Regions from separate parts of the Homo sapiens genome. Here region 1 is linked to region 2. A link means that fine-mapping ties the variant in region 2 to the expression of a gene that starts in the linked region. Tissue or cell type: pancreas. Region 2 holds a variant in brackets; the other region holds the start of a gene. All regions are shown on one strand. Distances are from middle to middle.

Region 1 (5,000 bases), 54 kb before region 2:
ATCCTTTATTATTGGAATCACACTCTACCTTTTCCCTCTTTCCTATATTTGGCAATATTGTAACAATTCCAGATGTCCTCAAAGAGCTCTTAGCATTGGCAAGTAACATCTCCGGAGACTTTAACAATCCTTCTTCCGTCTAGTGATCCCCAAATCTGGCTGCCCAACAGATCACATGAAGAGCATTAAAAAAAATCCCAAGTCCAGGTCTTGCCCCATGCCAATTAAATCAGAATGTCTGGGGGCGGGAGCCAGACACTGGTTTTTGTTTTGATTTTTTTTTTTTTAATCCCAGGTAATTCCAATGTGCAGCAAGGTCTGGGAACCACTGTTCTATGCCTTGCCCCTCCCCCAACGACCGCGCTGGGCACCAAACCCCAACTCCCCAAGCCAATGACATCAACAGCAAGTACGGGCCTGGCTCTTGGAACCCGCGCAGCTCAAGGTTGGAATTGTGCAATTAAACCTTCCAAGGCATGTTTCCCCTGTCAAGTGGGTTTATGGTCGGTAGTCACGAAGCCAGACTCGCTCATGTTCTGTCTGCACACTTGGCACACTTGAACCAGGGACAGCAATCCGGTGTGTGTGTGTGTGTGTGTGTGTGTGTGTGTGTAAGACAGGTTTAATATTTTGGTTGGCTCAAATTCTTCAAACAGCAAAAAGAGACATCCAAGAAAGAAAGTCTCCGGGTTTTGAGGAGAAGTTTGCTGTGAGCCCCATTTTGAAACACCATGGTGTTGGCCAGGATGAGCTCTGCTTCCGGGGCTTCCGCTCAAGAGTCCCGCGATCCCCCCCTGCAGTGGCCGGACAGCCGCGTCCCGCTCCACCGCGAAGCCCAGGCGCGACCGAAGGGCTGCAGGTGGAGCAGACCCGGACGTCTCCGCGAGGCGGCCATCGAAGGAGAGCCTGGGGCTTTCGGCGCGGGCGCCCAGGAGGGAGCTGGGGTCCCCGGGAGGTGGGGGGCACTCTTGGATAGGCAAGACGAGGGCGCACCGGGCGAGGCGAGCGGCCGGGGTCTGCGCCCAAGGGGCGGGTCGGACCCCACCTGCCTTTTGCCAACGAGGAAACTAACCGCCGCCAGCACCACCCCTCCCCGGGAGCCGCAGGTGGTGGTAGACGAGTTCTCCCAGCTCCCAGGTCGAGGCTGCGACTCCACACTGGGGAACGAGGATCGCGGGGACCTGGAGAGGGGCCGGGGCCAGGCTGGCGGGCGCCGGCTTCAGTTTGAGACCTGCGCGGAGGGCGGAGGCGGGGAGGTCCTCTCAGAAAGCCGCCTGTCCCGCGGGGTCCGAGGGGAGGCTGTATTTTTGGGTTCCTTCCTCAGCTTCCCTAAACAGTGCAGTCTCGGCGGGTGGGCAGCGCCCGCCCCTCGGGTGCGCGCCAGGACCCCGTCGCGCCCTGGGAAGACAGCGCGGGGCGCACGTGCGGGACCCCGGCCCCAGGCGCCCACCAGCACCCGGCTTTCGCCCACTGACGCCGATCCTGCGCAGCTGGGCGGGGAAAGTGAGGGAAGAAAGTTGGGAGCGGTTCGGGGCGCCGGAGGTCCCGGCGGCCGTTCCCCGCCTGGCCTGCAGCCCGGTGTCCCACGCGTCTCCTCCTCCGCCCGCCCCAGACTCTCCCGGCCGAAGAACGAAACGTCCCGTTCCTCCCGCGGTCCCGGTCGGCGGCGCAGCTGATCTCAAGGAAACAGGAAAGGACGGGCGGGGGCGCGGGCGCCGAGCCGGTGCGCCGGTGCGCGGTTGGGCGGGCTGCGGGGTCCGGGGCGCGATCCGGGGGCGGCGCGGGAGCCGGCGAGACACGCCCTTACCTTTCTTTTCCTCCAGAGCCCGACTCGCCGGGCAGAGCGCAGCCAGCAGCGCCAGGAGCGCTGCCCCGGCCGTCCCGGAGGGTCGCATCGCTGCTCCCCGAAGAGCTCGCTCCGGCTCTCCCGATCAATACTGGACGGAGTCAGGGGGCCGTGCGCGGTGGTTGTGGCGTTGGCGGCGAGGCGGGGACTCGGGCGGACGCCGACGAGGTGGCCTGTCGTCCGGTCTGGGCGGCGGCGGCCGCCGGGGCTAGCTCGGGACTCCGGCCGCCTCGGCCGCGTCGGGCGCTCACACCGTGCGGGGGGCGGAGGCTGCTGCGGCCGCGCTGCGCCGGGGGCTGCCCGGACGTCTAGCTCGCGCGGGCCGAGGCGCGGGGAGGCAGGGCGGGAGGAGGAGGGACCAGGCGGCGGAGGAGGGATCGGGAGGAGCAGAGGAGGAGGAGAATGCGAGGAGGAGGGAGGAGAACCAGCAGCGGGGACCCAAGGCCAGCGGCCGCCGGAGGCGGTGGACAGCGGTGGCCCCCGCGGGACCTAGTCTCCGGCGGGAGTGGGGCGGCGCATGGGAGGGGAGCGGGTGCCCTGAGGAGTTAATTTCCGAGAGGGGCGTTCCCAGCACTGCCCCTCTGGACCCGGTCCCCGCGGACTTGCAGGCCCAGCCTATGTCCAGGTCGAGCCAAATCTGTGCCAGGGTCCCCTTCCCCCTTTCCCTTCTTTTGTTTTACAAAGCAAACTTGTACCAGCTTTAGACAGACTGGCCGAGCCTTAGAGCCAGCGTCGGATAATGGCACCGACGGGGAAACTGCTCCTTTATTCGGGTCCCCACCTCCCCTGCAGCACTACGGGACCCTCTCGGGGATCAGAGGCTGGCCTGGCAGCTGAGGAGGTCGCCGTGCCCGCGCGGCAGGGGTGCCAGGCGTCCGAGGTGGTGCTCTAAAGTCCGAGGGTCCTTCAGATCTTGTCAAGCACCCTCGAAATCATCTGAAATGAGGGCACCCAACTCCGGGTGCAGAGACAGGCCTCCTTAATGTTTATTGCAACCAGCCATGGGTACTTTGAAGCCAATGTGTGAAGCACATTACTTCGCAAAAGTGAAGCTCTTGGAATAAAGGCTTGACACAAACAGCCGTGGAGGTGCTTTTAGAGAGGCTAAGTGTCCCACTGCCCCTGTAGCTCCCGCAGGAGAAATGCCAGGGAAACTCGCGGAAGCTTTGGCCAAAAGAAACTGAGCTTTTTTGGGCTGCAGGAACTTGAGCTATATTCCTTTGGCAAGTCCACCCCATCCCCACTGTTCCTTCTCCTGCAGTAAAAATGTCCTCTAGGTCCATGTTACAGCCAGACCCCTCCTCTCTTCACGAGATTCACTAGGACCTTCAGGCCTGGTTCAACAACCCTGATCTCTCGGCTCTGTCAAAAATCACAATCCTGAAGTAAGTGAAGCTACAGACCTGCCCTTTGCTGTCTCTGAAGGGGAGCAACCTTACATCTTTCCTCCTCATCCAGCAAAATGTTTGTGCCTGGGTCTCGCACCCTGCAGCCTGAACGGTGGGGTTTTTCACCAGGGCAAGCGCAGACAGACACAGGTCTGCTCACTGCCCGCACAACCTGGAACTTCCCTGTGAATTAGGAGAAGTAATCTGTTCCTTTGTTTTAACAAATCAGTACAGCCACTGTGCGTTGAAGTCATGCCCTGAATGCAGAGGCCATGAAGGCTCTGCAGGCATGTGTGTGCTTCCTGCACACCTGGGCTGAGAGCAGTCCGTAGAAACACAGAAAACAAAACTAGAGAAAGGCAAATGGGAAGCACAACAGTGGAACATAAAATGAAGACAGGAGTGAGTCTTACAATAAAAGACCTGAATACAATAAAGTCCTGTGCATTCACTTAACAAGGGCTGCAAATTTGGTTTTAAACTATATTTTCTGTCAAGGGAATGTGACCTGTGTGTACAAGTCACAACACAAATCAATTTAAGCTACAACTGATTTGTAAGACTGTACAGGAATTTCTTTGAGTGCCCAAAAAGACAGCATGTAAGAACATCAGTTCTCACTACGTTAGGACTATATGAGACAACAGCCTTCATAGTACGGCTTGTATATTCTTCAATGTGATCTGATAGCATCACAAGAAACAGAGCTTTTTGTAAAGAATTACTAGACACACACATAGCACAATACTGGGATGGATTCCAGGGAACAGAGAAGAATGGGTTTGCTGAACATCTTCATGGGACATCTATGTAAAGTTTGAGTTTCTCCTTTGAGCTTTTGATACAAAAGCTGACATTCACGTTGATTTTGTAGTCCTTGGCTAGTACCTGGAGTGTGCTGATAACTGTGTTACTTGGTAAGTAAAAAACTGTATGGCCGAGCAGGCACTAATGAAGTCCTCTTAAGAGAGATAAGTAGCCTGGCATAGTTAGGGCCCTGCACAGTTAGGGCTCTAGCTCACAGCCTCTGTGGAGGGTGGTCCTAGACCATGGCCCGGACAGAGGCTGGGTGTGTGTGCCACCACCACAGGAATGACAATAGTGGCCCAGTTGCTGTGTTAAGCATTGGTCAGACTAAGCTTATCTGATAACCTGTGAGCTGGTTAATACTTGTATCTGCCTTTTATAGCAATGTGATGCTGTGGCCGGGAGAAGTGACCAGGATACCAAGGTATACTTGCTAGTATGAGAGGCCAACTTTGAATCCAAGGCAGAGCCGTGTTTTACCCCTCTTGTCCAGCAACGCTTCAAAACCTGAGACAAATGGTGATGTCAGGACCTAAAATTCTATTTCATAATGTCTTGGAAATTTGTTAGGGTGAGTAATACCAAAATTTCTGCTTGGCCAAAAAAATTATAGATAAAGCCTTCATGTATGCTATATTAGCAAGTATGTACTAAGACTCTAGTATTTCCCTTAATAAATCTCATAAGCGTCTGTCAATTTTAATAACACAGATGGTTCCATCCCTTTGCCAGCTGTACATGAGAAACTTTTTTCCTCTGATGAGTGGTTATCCTCTTAGAAGAAGTTTCTGAGTATGTTGAATAAGAGTTTAGTCTTGTCTATAAGGAATGTGGCTCTGAATTTCCTAAAACCAAATGCTCTGTGAAAGGGGAGGAGAAACACGTTATTTGGCAGGGTGAAGATCTGAGGTCTTCAAATATTCTAAGTTCCATCTTAGGCAAAAGGCATTTGACCACCT
Region 2 (10,664 bases):
AATTAACATGGGAATTACCTCAAAAACGTATCGTTTTGTGGTGAAAATGCTTGAAACTTACTCTTGTAGCAATATTCAGGAATATAATACATTGTTGGGAACTATAGTCATCATGTTGTACAATGGATCTCCTGACCTTACTCCCCGTGTCTAACTGAAATTTGTATCTTTTGACCAACACCTCCCCAGCCTCTCCCTGCAGCCTCTGGTCACCTCCGTTCTGCTCTCCATGCACGTGAATCCACCCTTGCTACATCCCGCGTGTAAGTGAGATGATGCTGTCATTAGTTTTAGGACTGTGTCAAGTATGGGAGCGTGGGTGCTGCAAGAGGTAAGATCTCCCAGTGACTCCCAGTCATGAGACTATACAAATCATTAAACATATATGAAAAATACCTATCAAAAGGAAAAACAAATAACTTGGAAAATATTTTTGGCTTATACAGGAAAATGTATTTGTTATTCAAACCAATGAGAATTGAATGAGAGCTTCAAGTTTAAGTACAGAAAATTTGCATAGTAGGAAATATTTTTAATATGCAAACATCAAATGATGATTAACATTGTGATGTGTGAATGAAATTATATTTAGAAGACTGATAAGATACCTTTTACGATTAATGAGGTGTCAGCAGTGAAGGAGGTGTCCCCCTGTGACATACCTGACGTAATGAATGCAGTGTTACTGAAGCCACGTTTGCAGCATCTGTCCTGTGAAAACTGACAGAAAAACATACTGACAAGTAAAAATACCTTTGATCAGGATCCTACTACTGTGACTTTATCTAAAAGTAAGAAGATGATCATTGTGTATTTACATATAATAGCAAATTATTGGCATCAACCTTAATATTCTACCATAAGATAAAAATGGAAATAAATTTTAAAATGCAGAACTTAAAATAATAACTGTGGAGTTTATGCAACATAAAACATATTCAAAGTTAGCATAAATACAAAAACAAAATATATACTTATTTTCTATGTCAAGGTTATAACTATAGAGGTGATGTTCTTTTTTCTGCAACAGAAAAGTGGAAATAGTTTGGCATTTGGGGATAGCAGCATCAATGTAATTGAGCAACAATTAAGCAAACACTAATTTTAAAATGTACTATTGTTACTAAATGTTGCATAGTCAACATGGCAATACTTTCATTCCTTGTGATTAGTAGCGGTTGTATTTCAAGGCTTTGCAATTGTCAGTCCCTGTCTCTCAACCCCAACCCCAAATGGCCACCGGCAGTTTCAGCCCTTTCGAGCCTGCAGCAGAAACACCTGGGCTGTACTGACAGCTTCCAGAGTGAAATGAAGACCGCATGTGGTGCTTTGCCACAGGCCTGGGAATCGAGCTGGGCAGTGCTTGTAGGAACACTGGGCCGGCTTCCTTTCTCCCCACCACCAAGTATGGCCAGGTTATTTGACTGGCCTGCCAGGTGCTAGGTCTTGGTTCACACTTGCAGTCCTCTCCCTGTATAAGCTTCTGCTAGATTCTTCTGTGTTTAAAAGAATGTATTATTCCTCAGAAGGTTCATAAGAGCCTCCCTTTTCTGGGCTGAGAATGCCCACAGGATATCAAGAACCACCACTGCTCCCTTCTCTTCCACTTGGGAGCAAATTCCTTGGCTACCAAGACCATGGCAGTCTACTGTGTCACATCTGTTGGATGTATTTAGACTTCGGGAAATCATTGACCTGGTCATAAGTAGACCCAATGACTGCTCTATCCACTGTCTCTAAAAAAACCCTGAACTAGATACCATGGCTTATCCTGGGTCATTTATTTATTTCCTTGTTAGCCTTCAGTCTGAATAATCCTTACTTATGGATGTTCACCACGTGACCTGAGGTGGAGGATGGTGGCCTGAGAACATGAGGTGGCCCAACATGTTCAAGCAATGGGATCGAGTTGTTTTGTTCTTGTTTGCTAAGATACGTGTGGGGAACTCTGGATACATAGTTGGAATAGTTGGCATCCCTACAGTTTGGAATGTTTGTGTCTCACGCATTCCAAGGACATGCTCAGGTGTGCAATTGCCCGGGCTGTCGCAATACAGAGAAATGGGCCATTCAGCTTGAGTCAGAATAATCATAAACAATGCAAAGTACAAACTTCTCATAAACTTGAATGTGTCTCTAGACTTCGCACGTAGCTATTGAAGGTGAAACCCTCCTCCTCCAAAAAACAAATGGACTAAATCAAGGTTATAGAAGAATGAGCATAAAGGCACTTTATAACAGGGCTATGTTGGAATGTCACTTGGAATTCAGGCACTTGTCTGAAACTTGGCATCTTAGAATTGGAAGAGAAAGACTGTGAAAGGAATATTTAATTTGCTCCATTCCAAAACTTGACATCCAAACACTATTTAAAGAAACAGTTTTGATAATCTGTAAACTTGACATTTTGAACAGTCTTGTTCATTAAACCCCTTCTCTTTTCAGCCATGTTTATGAATCTCAAAAGCAGCACATAAACCTTCACTTACTGACATTTATTGATGTTTCATTTTAATTTAATACTTTTAATATAACAACTGCTGTTATGGTCCAGACACCAAGCTGAGCAATTTACGAGGTTTACCTCATTTAATCCTCATGACACCCCTATGACATGGTTACTATTTCTATGTGCATTATTCAGAATAGAGACTTACACAGGTTTGTTAACTTGCCTTCGTAAGTAAAAGCTTTAGTAAATTCTAAGACTTAATAAATTCCATAGCTCTCATGTAAACCCAGATGGCTTTATTTCAGAGTCAACCCACGTACTTAACACCACACTATGCGATGCGTGCCCAACACAAAGAAAACTCAAGTCAGATGTCAAAGCATCCTAGCATGATAGTTTATATGCTCTTCTCACAAGGGTGACCCTAGTGTCTTGATTCCACTCTGTCCCCTGACCTAGCTCTCATGGTTATGATTCCTTTTTCACCTGCCTTAGGTAGTGAAGGTGTTACCTAAAGGAGGGTGAGTGTGTGGCTCAGTGACATTGCTGAGATGTCACAGGCTTATTCTGAATAATGCACATAGAAATAGTAACCATGTCATAGGGGTGTCATGAGGATTAAATGAGGTAAACGTTGTAAATTGCTCAGTTTGGTGTCTGGACCATAACAGTATTTGTTATATTAAAAGTATTAATAACAAGCTTATTTTCCTGAACACATCTCACCCTGTTTTGTATCTATCTCAATGGGTAGAACATAACTATTGTGCCCAAGGAAGCTGTTCATGAAATAGAGGATGTAGTTAATACCATGGTTCCAAACCTTCTAAAGACAGGTAAACTTAGCTCCAGAACAGTTAAAGTCATTAGACTGTGGTTAGAATCAATTGTCATTCCTCCCTTCCCAAGAAAAGTATCCTATAATTACATTTAAATATAAGAAAAGGCTTTAACTAAGTTATTGCTGACTATATCTTATGTCCAATGAGATAATGAAAGAAAATGAAAACTTTTATTGTTTAAAATCGGTAACAGATTAATGGGTACAGAGTTTCTGCTTGGGGTATGGAAAGAATTTTGGAATGAGACAGTGGAGATGTAATTAATGCCACTGAATTTTACACTTAAAAATAGTTAAAATGGCAAATCTTATGTGATATATATTTTACCGTAAAGCTGTTTGTTTACTTCAAGGTGAGTATAGTCATCCTTCAGTATTTGTGGGGTATTGGTTTCAGTATCCTTTGCAGATATCAAAATCCACAGATGCTCAAGTTCCTGATATAAAATGGCATAGTATTCGCATATAACCTACACACATATACCTTTCTCCTCCATACACTTTAAATTATCTCTAGGTTATTTATAATACCAAATACTATGTAAGCACTATGTAAATAGTTGTTATACTGTATGTTTTATTTGTATTATTTTTGTTGTTGCATTGTTATTTATTTATTTTGAATATTTTCAATGTGGAGTCAATGAAATCCATGGATGAGGAACCCACAGATATAGAGGGTTGACTATAATCCAAGAAAGGGAGAGATGAGAAAATCACAGTGTCCTTTATAAACTGGTCTCTGAAGTTAGATATCATCACTATGTTTCATTCTATTAGTTACAAAGGAGTCAGTAAGTCCAGCTCACACTCAAGGGCAGGGGAATTACGTTCTACCACAGTACTGAAGGGGGAGTATTAAAGCCTTTGTGGTCGTATTTGAATTTCACCACATGTGGTGAGTTATAATGAATATCTTTCAAGTATTAAGCTACTATTAACCTCCTAGAATAAATTTACTTGGTAATAATGTATTTTTTGTATATTGTTATATTTGATTGCTAATTTTTATTTAAGAGTTTTGCATGTATGTATTTTGTAAGGTGCTTGTAAAGTCTTGGTATCTAAGTTATTCTGGCCTCATAAAATACCTAAGATTCTTTATTTCTTTTCCTATTACTTTTGGAATTTTTTTCAAAGAATTTATTCATCTGTTTCATCTAAATTGGCAAATTCTAGGTTGTAAAGTTGTTTATATTATACTCTTGTTACCTTTTTAATAACTGTAGGATACACAGTTATGTTTCTCTTTTCATTCCTAATATTGGTAATTTGTATTTTCTCCTTTTCTCTTCCTTGATCTGTCTTGCTAAACTTTACTGATTTCACTAATTTTTTTAAGGAAACAACTTTTAGCTTTGTTTTTCTTTTTCTTTTTAACAGCTTTACTGAGATAGAATTCATATACTCACCCATCATAAGTCTACCACTTGTCTCAACCATCTTGGGCTGCTATAACAAACATTCCATAAACTGGCTGGCTTACCAAGAACAGAAATGTATTCCTTCTAGAGGCTGGGAAATTCTAGAGGCTGGGAAGTTGCAGATACAGGCTCCAGCATATTCTGTGTCTGGTGAGGGCTCTCCCTTCCCTCCATAGATGGCACCTCTTGCTGCAGTCTCCAGAGTGGGAGGGGCATGCATGCTCCCCTGGGCTCTTCTGTAAAGGCACTAGCCTCATCCATGAATGCTGCACCGTCATGGCCTGATCACCCCCAAAGCCCTGCCTGTTAATACTAGTACATTGGGGATTAGGTTTCAACATAAGAATTTGAAGGGGACACAAACGCTCAGACCATAGATCCATTTAATAACTTTTAGTAAATTTTAACCAACCTCACAACCCAGTTTTAGGACATTAATAAAATGTTCATCATTGCCAAATATCCTGAGTGACTTTCAACCAAAACCACTAAGCTAAGCCACTCCCAAACCCTCAAACCAAAGAAATCATGAGATGATGAGTGTTTGTTGTTTTGTGTCTAAATATTGGAGTGATTTTTATGCAACAATAGACAGAATATAGATCACCACTCTTTTCTAGCTCTTCTATTTATGCTTGCAGACAGACTTCAGTATCATTTAATTGTTCCCCACCCAAAATATCATTGTTACTTTAAGTCAAGAATTTTCTGTAGCATATTGATGTACTTGTCAGGGTTCTCCAGAGAAACAGGATTTGTATTTATTTACTTATTATAAGGAATTGGCATGTGATTGTGGAGGCCAAGAAGTCCCAAGATCCGCAGTTGGCAAGGTGGAGACCCAGGAAGCCAAAACCCTGAGAACCAGGCGAGCGAATCTCCTAAGTTCTAGACCAATTCCGAGTCTGAAGGCAAGTGAAGACCAAGAGCACAAATTCTCTCTTACTCAGACTTAGACTTTTTCTTCTATTTAGGCCTTTGATAGATTGGATGAGGTCCACCCACAGTGGGCAGGGCAAGGTACTTTATTCAGCCTACCAATTCAAATGCTAATCTCATCCAGAAAAACTCTTATGGACACATTTAAAATAATGTTTCACCAAATATCTGGGCACCCCATGGCTCAGTCAAGTTGATACATGAAATTAATCATCACATATGGTAAGAGCACAAGCTTTGTAAACAAAGTGAACAGGATTCAAATTCCTGCTCTGCCATTTATCAGCTGTGAGGCCTTAGTAGTTATCCTAATTTGCCTTACAGAAAATGTTTTATTAAAAACAAACTTTAGCTGTATTCATATTGTGATGGACTCTAACTCCCAGCCTGACATGTGAATTATTGGTGTTCTGGTTACACCTGGAGCCCTGTTGTCCTCAGAATTCTGGCAAAGTCTATGATCCTTGGCAGAAATGTGTTGCCTCTTTGGAAACACCAGGTTCCAACACTTTGGAAACTCTTTATGCTTACCCTTGACTTACTTCCTGATAAATACATGGGAATGATTTCCAGATTAGC[G/A]CATGGCTTCCAAAGACAATATGAACACCCTGCCAAAACTGCTGCCCAATGCCTTTAAAGGTTGCTTTTCAGTTTGAGATTAATTTTTTATGTAACAATAGACAACTAATATAGGTCACCACTCTTTTTTCCCCCTATCTAATTTTTTATTATACTTTAAGTTCTAGGGTACATGTGTACAATGTGCAGGTTTGTTACATATGTATACATGTGCCATGTTGGTGTGCTGCACCCAGTAACATGACTAAAACACCAAAAGCAATGACAACAGAAGCCAAAATTGACAAATGGGATCTAATTAAACTAAAGAGCTTCTGCACAGCAAAAGAAACTATCGTCAAAGTGAACAAGCAACCTACAGAATGGGAGAAAATTTTTACAATCTACCCATCTGACAAAGGGCTAATATCCAGAATCCACAAAGAACTTAAACAAATTTACAAGAAAAAATCAAACAACCCCATCAAAAAGTGGGCAAAGGATATGAACAGACACTTCTCACAAGAAGACATTTATGCAGCCAAAAGACACATGAAAAGATGCTCATCATCACTGGCCATCAGAGAAATGCAAATCAAAACCACAATGAGATACCATCTCACACCAGTTAGAATGGCAATCATTAAAAAGTCAGGAAACAACAGGTGCTGGAGAGGATGTGGAGAAATAGGAACACTTTTACACTGTTGGTGGAATTGTAAACTAGTTCAACCATTGTGGAAGACAGTGTGGTGATTCCTCAAGGATCTAGAACTAGAAATACCATTTGACCCAGCCATCCCGTTACAGGGTATATATCCAAAGGATTGTAAATCATGCTGCTATAAAGACACATGCACACGTATGTTTATTGCGGCACTATTCACAATAGCAAACACTCTTTTCTAACTCTTCTATGTATGCTTACAGATAAACTTTAGAATCACTTAATTACTCCTCACCCAAAATATCATTGTTATTTTAAATCAAGAAATCTCTGCAGAGTATTGATGTATTAGTCAGGGGTTCTCCAAAGAAACAGAACCAATAGGATATGTATTAGCAGGATATGGATTAGGATCCTGCTGCTAATTAGGGTGTGGATAAGCTATAGAGAAGAGAATAAAATTATTTATTTATTTTTCCTTCTGATCCTTTTGCAATGAGTTTCCCTTCTTAGAGCTTGAGGCTGGTAAGGATTATTTTTTTTAACCTCACTTTCGAGCTGGTGGAAACGTGACAATGGCGGCATATATTTGCCAAGATGTGGGTGGTTTGTATGTGTTGTCGGCCCCAGCTCTGAGCCCAGGACAAAGAGCAACACCAGGCTAACAACCCAAGTGCTCACTACCCAGGCATTGCCTGGCTACATGGCCTCAGGGATGCAAAACTTTCAAAAGTTTTATAGCTTGGAGTTTGTTGCTTACTTTTTTTTTTTTTTTTTTTTTGAGAAGGAGTCTCACTCTGTCACCCAGGCTGGAGGGCAGTGTTGTGATCTGGGTTCACTGCAACCTCCCCTCCCAGGTTCAAGCAATTCTCCTGCCTCAGCCTCTGGAGAGCTGGGATTACAGGCGCACCCCCACCGCACCTGGCTAATTTTTGTGTTTTTAGTAGACGGGGTTTCACTGCATTGACCAGGCTGGTCTCAAATTCCTGACTTCAGGTGATCCACCCACCTCGGCCTCCCAAAGTGCTGGTATTATAGGCATGAGCCACCATGCCCAGCCTGCTTACACTTTTAAAATAAAGCTTTCTATTTTCATATTTATATTCAAGTGTCATAAATGATTTATGGTGAGGGTGAAATGACTCATCAGAGATGACAATGATTATGAAATGAGCATAACAAACATGAAGGGTCTCAATTTGAGGCTGCCGTGTTATTACCTGATGTGGGCTGGTCTCTAAGGGCAGAAATGCCTCCGAATAGAAGGAAAGAAAATTTAACTCCTTGTTGCTACTAGTAGAAGAAATTAAGAATTAGCAAATATTGGGCTTTCAAAATTATTGTTTTCCAAATTTTAGAGGTGGGTGTGTGTGGGCAGGAGAGTGTGTAATACATAAACATCTAGACATGAATTTGTATATAAAGAATTGTAACTTTCTTGTTTTCTTTTCTTCCTTCCCTCCCTCCCTCTGTCCTCTCTCTTTCTATTTTAAACACTAACTCAATTTCCTTTTTAACTCCATCTTGCTATTTGACAGAAACCTAATTTGGATTTGTGTCTCACTTCAATTCCCGGTGTTTCGCAGATAGTCAGGGGCTTGCATAGAAGCAGCACAGATCATGGTCATCGTGATGCTGGGTGGGTGGGGGTCATCTGTGTAGGCAGGTCCTTGACTTTACCCATCCACTCTGACAATGGCTGAAAATCCATTTAGTCCTTGGTCCTAGGCTCCTGAGGGTGGCTTGCTGCTGAATCACACTTTGTTTCAGTATTGTTAGGGTCAAGGAGGATTTCGTTCTGCTTCAGTACCATTCTCAGGCCCCTGGAGTCAGTTGCTTCCTGGACCATGGTGGGAAGGGAGCCCTGTATGACTATTACAGCCATTGTGACTAATCACATCCATATATACTTTTGGGCTAGTTCTTGCTACCTCCCTTGGCTCCACCTACTTAAGGGGCATAATTCCCCCTTGCAATTGGACATCCTCAGACAATGTGACACTTCTCCCCACCAACTGCCTGAGTCATCATTTTCTCAGGAGTCCACCGATACTGCCTGCATTGTCTTCATTTCCTTTCCAACTCTGTGCCATCCCCCTGAAGAGGAAAGCCTTTCTCTGGGTTGGCCAATGAGGAAACTGCGATTTCTCATCACAGCTTCTAAATGGGTTGCTACTATGTTTTATGAGACTTTCCTTTTACTCAGAGACTAGACTTAAAAAAAAAACAAAAAAACAAGGACAGGCTGTTGCTTTTCCCCCAATCATGTATCATCTGCTTCTTCAAGCAAATCAGCCTAGATTATCCTGACTGCTTCCCACAGGCAGAGGAAGGCGAGTGGGAATGGGAATGCAGGGGAAAGTCATGCCTCCTGCGTGGAAGCCAGCTTTGGAGGCTGGAGGTGTCATATAGGGCGCTAAATCAAGGTCAATCGCCTTTCATTCCTTCAAATACAATGATGGAAATTGTGGTCAAGGAACTGTCGTTTCCATGTGATTCTCCTGCTTTATCTCTTTGTTATGCCAGGATGCTGGGTACTGTGGCCCTCCCTGTCGCTTATGACGCTCCTCCACCTTGGCTTCTTTGAAGGCATTCTCCCCTCTGGCAGGACCTTCACTTTCCAGGCTGTTCTCAGCATCCCCCCTTCTCATTTCTCCTGAAGTGCTGAGGGTCCCCAGGCCTCACCCTGTACCCTCTTCCTGGATGTCCTCATCCCGGCCTGGCACTGCTGTTTCGTGACTTCTGGTGATCTCTTCCAGCTGATAAGCAATAAGGAAGGATTGGTGGAGTTGACTGTTAGCATCTTTTCACATCTAATGAAATAATAGGTTGGGCCCTTACCACCAGTGTCTGCTAATGTCAGAAAGGTGAGGCTAGCGGGCTTCTGTGCCTAGTGCTGGAAGTGCTGGCATCGCATGAGGGCAGGCATCCCTCAGCATCTGCAGGCACTGCTTTCAGGGCCCCCGTGGGTGCCAAAATCTACAGATGCTCAAGCTCCTGATAAAAAATGGCTTCGTATTAGTATGTAGCCTACATACATTCTCCCATATGATTTAAATCACCTCTATATTACTTATAATATCTAATACAATGTAAATGTTATGTAATAGTTACAATATTTTATTGTTTAAGAAATAATGACAAGAAAAAAGAAGTCTATACATGTTCAGTACAGACACGATTTTCTAAAAACTATTTTCTATCTGCAGTTGCTTGAATCCATGAGTGCAGGACACACAGATATGGGGGGTTTGTTGTATTTTATTGCTAAAAATTTGAACGTGGATGTGATAAAATATCTAGATTGAATTACCAGTTAACAGGAAATATAGGAGACAGGGCATCATTGGGATACAATCAGCAAAATGTAGACTATATAAAATTCTACCAACAAACTACTCACTTTCTTCAACAAATAAATTGAGAAAGAGTAAGGGAAGAAGGGAGGTAAAAAAATGGAGAGAGAGAGAAAGATGGCAGGAGAAAGAAAGAGAGAGAGAAAGATTTTAGAGTCTGCAAAAACCTTAAGAGACATCCTGGTTTGAATTCTGATTCAGATTTTAAAAATACGTATTAGTCAATGGGAAAAATTTGTACATAACTGGATATTTGATAATATTAAGAAATTATTGCTAATATTTTGGTGTGATAGAGGTATTGTGTGTTTAAAAAAATCTTCATTCTTGAGACATTTATGGATGAAAAGATGTGATGTCTGCTATTTGCTTCAAAATAGTTAAGGTTGGGCATAGGTGAGGGCATAGGTAAAACCAGATTGGCAGT

Direction of the effects. Alleles are on the strand shown, and positions count from the first base shown. SD is a standard deviation of normalised expression in the study named.
As copies of G replace A in region 2, the expression in pancreas of the gene that starts at base 2,156 in region 1 goes down (large effect, 0.82 SD a copy in GTEx).

The links. PIP is the estimated chance that this variant, and not a neighbour inherited with it, causes the effect.
Region 1: it holds the start of EGFR, and the variant in region 2 is fine-mapped to the expression of EGFR in pancreas (GTEx, PIP 0.95).

The regions. Positions count from the first base shown.
Region 1 is chr7:55,016,173-55,021,172 of GRCh38, reverse strand. It overlaps EGFR (epidermal growth factor receptor), which reads right to left and starts at 2,156. Exons shown (of 28, transcript NM_005228.5): 1 at 1,808-2,156. The coding sequence starts at 1,895. LOC105375284 (a long non-coding RNA gene) reads left to right here and starts at 2,251. Exons shown (of 4, transcript XR_007060329.1): 1 at 2,251-4,612. RefSeq lists an enhancer at 482-1,156.
Region 2 is chr7:54,958,885-54,969,548 of GRCh38, reverse strand. No RefSeq gene overlaps it. Among named protein-coding and RNA genes, the nearest start is that of EGFR, 55 kb to the left of the region's middle. The variant G/A (reference allele first, on the strand shown) is at 6,236.